2 separate regions of the Homo sapiens genome follow, and region 2 is linked to region 1. The links come from fine-mapping of genetic effects on gene expression. A gene starts in region 1. The other region holds a variant in brackets. All regions are shown on one strand. Distances are between the middles of the regions.

Evidence for each region.
Region 2: its variant is fine-mapped to the expression of IDH1 in nasal epithelium (TOPMed, PIP above 0.99).

Annotation. Positions count from the first base shown.
Region 1 is chr2:208,253,306-208,256,063 of GRCh38, forward strand. It overlaps IDH1 (isocitrate dehydrogenase (NADP(+)) 1), which reads right to left and starts at 1,766. Exons shown (of 10, transcript NM_005896.4): 1 at 1,634-1,766; 2 at 581-654. IDH1-AS1 (IDH1 antisense RNA 1) reads left to right here and starts at 1,928. Exons shown (of 2, transcript NR_046452.1): 1 at 1,928-2,126; 2 at 2,598-2,758. RefSeq lists a silencer at 911-1,020 and an enhancer at 1,474-2,000.
Region 2 is chr2:208,177,928-208,180,944 of GRCh38, forward strand. C2orf80 (chromosome 2 open reading frame 80) reads right to left here. Exons shown (of 9, transcript NM_001099334.3): 6 at 2,818-2,889. Among named protein-coding and RNA genes, the nearest start is that of C2orf80, 11 kb to the right of the region's middle. The variant A/G (reference allele first, on the strand shown) is at 1,571.

The sequences.
Region 1 (2,758 bases):
ATGAAATTTTTACCATCTTTTAACTAAAACAGTGAAGCTTTATTGTTACTACCATGTGGAACATAATTGTATTTCTTCTGGATCTGATTTCCATGGGATGGGCTTGAGGCCCCACTGGACTGACTTCTCCACCTTTGTTGCCCCTCAGATTTTGTCTCCAACCCAATCCCAACTTCAGAAGGAAGGGCTGTTCCAAGACCAGCAGGCACCAGCTCATATGAAGTAGCTGAATCCTATCTCCTAACATAATTGTGCAATTCCAGAAAATAAACCTGGAATAACAATACAGAGTAGTTTAATGAAAAAAAAGAGCCATTTAATATTATTTTCATCAACCTCAAGTTTTTGGCCAGATTGTTTTTTGCCGAGTTCATGAACTACAATAATTTCTGGGCAAAAAGGATCTCTTGCAGATAAGACACTGTATTAAAAGAAACAAGGAAGCTGTTGGAATTCGTTGTTGGAAATATTCCTCACTCATTCCCTTGCAGTGCCTCGGCCTGCCCCCAAGACCAGTTAAACACTGTACTGCCACATCAAAGAAAGTACAGAAGAAGGGGGAAAATTTGCTAATTCTCACCTTGACAGTGAATAGATTTCTTATCACCCCAGTTCCTCCCAGTCTTGCAGACTCAACTGAATGTAGTTTATCGCCTAAAACAAAACAAGGAATAAAAGTGTTAACATACAGAACACTCACAGGAGAATTTAGCTGTTTTTAGTACCTGCCAGACAGCCCAGTTTATCCGGTTTAAAGTACAGTGCTGAGTGTACTCGGTGGGACAAAGGCCAATTTTAGGCCCGCAGGCACTTTCCAAATAAAGGTCATGGGAGCACAATTTATCTCTGCGTGTGCGAGGGCGTGCCCCCGCTTCGCCGCCCGTTAGCAGGTCTTGGGGTTTGCATGTCCTTGCTCTTGGCCTGCACCCGTCCTTATGGCCGTTGTGCAAGAGGGCTGCAATCAAGGCTGGATCGGTACCTCCTTCCAGGTCTCCACGCCCGCCCCTCCCCTCCCCTCCCCTCGCTGGTGCTGGGACCTTTTAAACTCCAGGCACCCGGAACTGGCGGGGGTGTTTCCCCCAGCCCCCTCTCGCCCCGTGTGGCCTAGCGACCCCTCTGAAGGCCGCTGGAGCTCCGCCCCTCCACGCCCCCTGGCGGACGCGAGGGATCGGCTTCAAGGCTATTCCTCGCCGCCTGAGTTGCCTGCAGACGCCCGTCTGCGGCTTACAGCCTTCTTTGCATCCAGCCCCCAGCTGCTGCACGTTTTCTTCCTCCTACACTCCAGGCTTAGTCTTCTACATGCATTCTTGCAACTTCCACCCCTCGATTTTCCAACCCAAGTGCAGACCTGATTTTCCCCTTGTCGTTGCATCCAACTTCCTCACCGCCCAGTTTCTCCCTCCCAGGCCCAAAAGCAGACCTTCTGCATATCCAAGCATCCAGCATCCCCTCCTTCCCTTTTCTTTTCCCATTCTCAATACCTGGATTTGTTCCCTTCTTTGCACGCAGGCCTTGACTCCCTCCACACCCAAGATCTGCGCTTTTTTCCTTTACCCCATTCCTGCCTTCTGCGGAATTAGAGCCACCCCTCCACAGCCAGGGACCGGGGCCGCCCCTTGGAGCCTGAGGTTACCTGCCGGGATGATATGCTGGCGAAGAGTTGGGGCGCCACAGCCGCTCACAAGCTCAGACTCACAACCACAGCCTGGCAATCCCAAACCGGACTCCCAGTGCCTCCGCTTCTGAAGTAGACTCTGCAGAAACCCGGGACCACAGGGTAGGTCCGAGCTTTTCCTCTTCCCGGCTTTGTCCCCTCCCAGGCCCCGCCTCCTCAGCCCACCTCCCCCAGCCCCGCCCCCGACACGCCTCCAATCGCCACACGCCAATTCCCGTGGGATGGGCGGAGTCAGCGAGAGGGGCGTGGCCACAGTCAAAGATGGAGAATCCATGGTGCCACTTTCCCGGTGATCCCGGTGGGGGAAGGGGTTGCCGCCCGGCAGAGATTCAGTCCCGAATCCCGACAGCGAAGAGACTTGTATGCCACCTGCAGGCCGGGGAGCGGGGCGCGCTGGGGCTGCACCACCCCGAACTTTGTAACAATCTAGAGCACCACAGAGTGTTTCCAGGTCGGCACAAAAGCGAACGGGACAGGGCGCCCTGGGCGGCGGCAGCTTGGCCGGCCCGCTGCCTAGCGCGCCCCCGAGGGGCGGTAATGGAACGTACCTTTGGCTGAAGAAAGAGTGCTCCCGGCCAGCGCGGGGTCGCCTAGGGGGTTCCGCGCTGCCTAATGCAAAGGATGGAAAAGTTACAGAAGCAGGTCCTGACACCACCTATGTCTAGGTCTTTAGAAACTCCATTGATTGTTTGCATTAGAAGATAATGAATGGGATTCTTATTATTTTCTTTTTTAAGACAGGGCCTTGCTCTGTTGCCCTGGCTGGAGTGCAGTGGAGCGATCACCGCTCACTGCAGCCTTGACTTCCTGGGCTCAAGAGATCCTCCCACCTCAGCCTTCCGAGTAGCTGGGATTACAGGTGCACACAATCACACTCAACTAATTTTTCTTTCTTTCTTTTCTTTTCTTTTTCCTTTGGTAGAGATGGGTTTCAGCAGCCCAGGCTGGTCTCGAACTCCTGGACTCAAGTGATTGGCCCTCCTCGGCCTCCCAAAGTCCTGGGATTACAAGCGTGAGCCACCATGCTCAGTTGGCGGGGGATTATCTGTGATCCAATGAAGTTGGACTAGAGATGTGAAGCCT
Region 2 (3,017 bases), 75 kb before region 1:
TGCCTCAGCCTCCCAAGTAGCTGAGATTACAGGCATGCACCACCACGCCCCGCTAATTTTTTGTGTTTTTAGTAGAGATAGGATTTCACCGTGTTGGCCAGGCTGGTCTCAAACTCCTGACCTCAGGTGATCCACCCACCTCTGCCTCCTAAGGTGCTGGTATTACAGGCATGAGCTACCGCGCCCAGCCTTCTAGCAACTTTAAATGAACCTGATTTATCTGAGCTACTCAGACACCCATGTTTGCAAACCTTCTTGACTGATAACCCAGCCAAACCTGGAGGGGTCCACAGTGCCATCCTCTCTAGGATGTGTTTTTCCATATTAGTCTTTTAGCCATGTGAGTTGGGACCAACTAGTCAGATGTGCTGATGCCTTTCTAGACCTCTCCCAGGTACCAGAAGGTGACAGGGAGAAAACAGTGACTGAAACAGAAGGGTTTGGGGCTCAGGCTTGTGTGTATATGTGCTGAGGGGTAGGGGAAAAGGAGAAAGGGCAGCCTAGAAGGGAGAAAGCTGCAGAAAAAGACAAGCAGGAATAAAGCAGTATGATTTGCTTGGCTATCCAAGGAACACAGAGAGCTGAGCTTTCTTTGAAAACCAAGAACAGCTTGATCTCTGAGGAGCGTCAGGCCTGGGGTGGCTTATATCTCAAACAAGGTAAGCTCCAATATAGGATATAAGATCTATAAGAAAAGTAATCTTGGCTGGGTGTGGTGATGCATGCCTGTAATCCCAGCATTAGGGGAGGCCAAGGTGGGAGGATCGCTTGAGCCCAGGAGTTCAAGACCAGCCTGTGGAACATAGGGAGACCCCCATCCCTAAAATTTTTTTTTAATTGTTTTTTGAGATGGAGTTTCTGCTCTTGTTGTCCAGGCTGGAGTGCAGTGGCATGATCTCAGCTCACTGCAACGTCCGTCTTCCGGGTTCAAGAGATTATCCTGCCTCAGCCTCCCTGGTAGTTGGGATTACAGGCGACCGCCACCACACCTGGCAAATTTTTTGTATTTTTAGTAGAGTTGGGGTTTCACCATGTTGGCCAGGCTAGTCTCAAACTCCCGACCTCAGGTGATCCACCCACCTTGGCCTCCCAAAGTTCTGGGATTACAGGCATGAACCACTGCAAACGGCCTGCAAAAAAGTTTTTAAAAAGTTATCTTGTCTGACTTGCTCACCACTGTATCCCCTGCACCTACAATTATACTGAATGAACAGATGAGTGAATGAATGAGTGAGTGAATGAATGAAGTGAGTTGAAACTAGAGGGATCAGAGAGAAAGTTCTGATTTTCACAATGATCAAGGGCATTTGAGTCTCAGGACTACAGTCAGGTTACATATGGATTAAAGTGATAGGAAAGTTGGTTTCAATGTAAACACTTGACTTCTAAGGTGGACCTGGTGGGCTCTTGAACTCTACATGACCCCACTGCTTGCACAATGACCTGCAGTAAAAGAATAAGGGAGGCAGGCATTCCTGTGGCCACAGCCTTGCCCCTGCCCTGCCCTCCCTTCTGAATCCAGGTGGGGGCAGGGAAAGCCACAGTGTGAGCAGAAGACCTGGGCGTGAGG[A/G]CGTTGGTGCCCCCCTTCCCCCCTCCCACTGCATGGCCCTCGCCACCTCACCTTCCCTTTCCTCTTGCCTCTTCTGGAGGTATCCAAAGGTGAAGGGATCAGTAGTTCACCTCTAAATAGCAGTTCATATTTAAATGTTTACTTAATGTTCATACATTTACAAGTGGCAAAAATGGAAGTGGTCTTAAAAATTATTCAGAACACCCTTTTTTTTTTTTTAAGATCAGTCATATGGAGGCCCGAAAGGGGAAAGGGACGCATCTAGGGTTTCATAGTAGTGGAGTCAGAACTCAAACCCAGGTCTCTGAACTCCCAGGTCATTGCTGCTTCTACTGTTAATGATTTCAAAGTAGTTTCATGGGAGGAGCTGAGAGTGGAGCTCACACCTATAGTCCAGCTACTTAGGAGGCTGAGGCCAGGATTTCGAGGATTACTGGATTACCAGGAATTTGAGACCAGCAGTGAGACCCGTCTTTAAAAAATGTAGTAGTGTTGTGGGAAAGGAAGATGTATCAGCAGTAAACTAGGGAATTTGTCATGAGAATGAGCCTTGTGGATCTTGTCCTAGTTCTAGAAGATATAGTACATCATAGAAGGGAACTGTGTGGACCTACCAGATCTACATTACAAAAAGTGTACGTGAAAAATTACATTTATTAGAAACAGAGCAGAGGTTGGCATGGTGGCTCATACCTGTACTCCAGTATTTTAGGAGGCCAAGGCAAGCAGATCACTTGAGGCCAAGAGTTTGAGACCAGCCTGGTCAACATGGCAAAACCCCATCTCTACCAAAAAATACAAAAATTAGCCGGGTGTGGTGGTGCATGCCTGTAGTCCCAGCTACTCAGGAGGCTGACGCACGAGAATTCCTTGAACCCAGGAGGCAGAAGTGCAGTGAGCCGAGATCGCACCACTATACTCCAGCCAGGGTGACAGAGTGAGACTCTGTCTCAAAAAAAAAAAACAAAACCACAACAGAGTAAAGTTTTGCCCCCAAGCCTGGTACTCATTGCTGCCCCTTCTCAGCCGTACACAAGATACATTTGTTATTACTGCATGGTCTTTTACATATGAAAGGCATTTCACACACGTTATTCAAGTAAGAAATGGTTATGTCTGGTTTTGTACATTTTGATGTAAAACTGTTATTTCATAATTGATGTCTGAAAATACAACATTATACATTTATACACTAAATAAATTATCTCTAAAAATCCCTTCTATTGACAATCCCAGGTCACCCTTACCTTGATGGTACCAGAATCGGCAGAAGAATCAGCCCCATAAATTTTAAAGACTTCCTCAATCGGGATACTGTTCTGTTAAACAACAACAGCAATAACAAAGTATGATCATACCATGGCTTTTCTTTTATTATAAAACAAAGCTAATATAGCTCCAGTATGTCTAAAACTGTGCTTGGGTATCATAAGTATTAAATACAGTA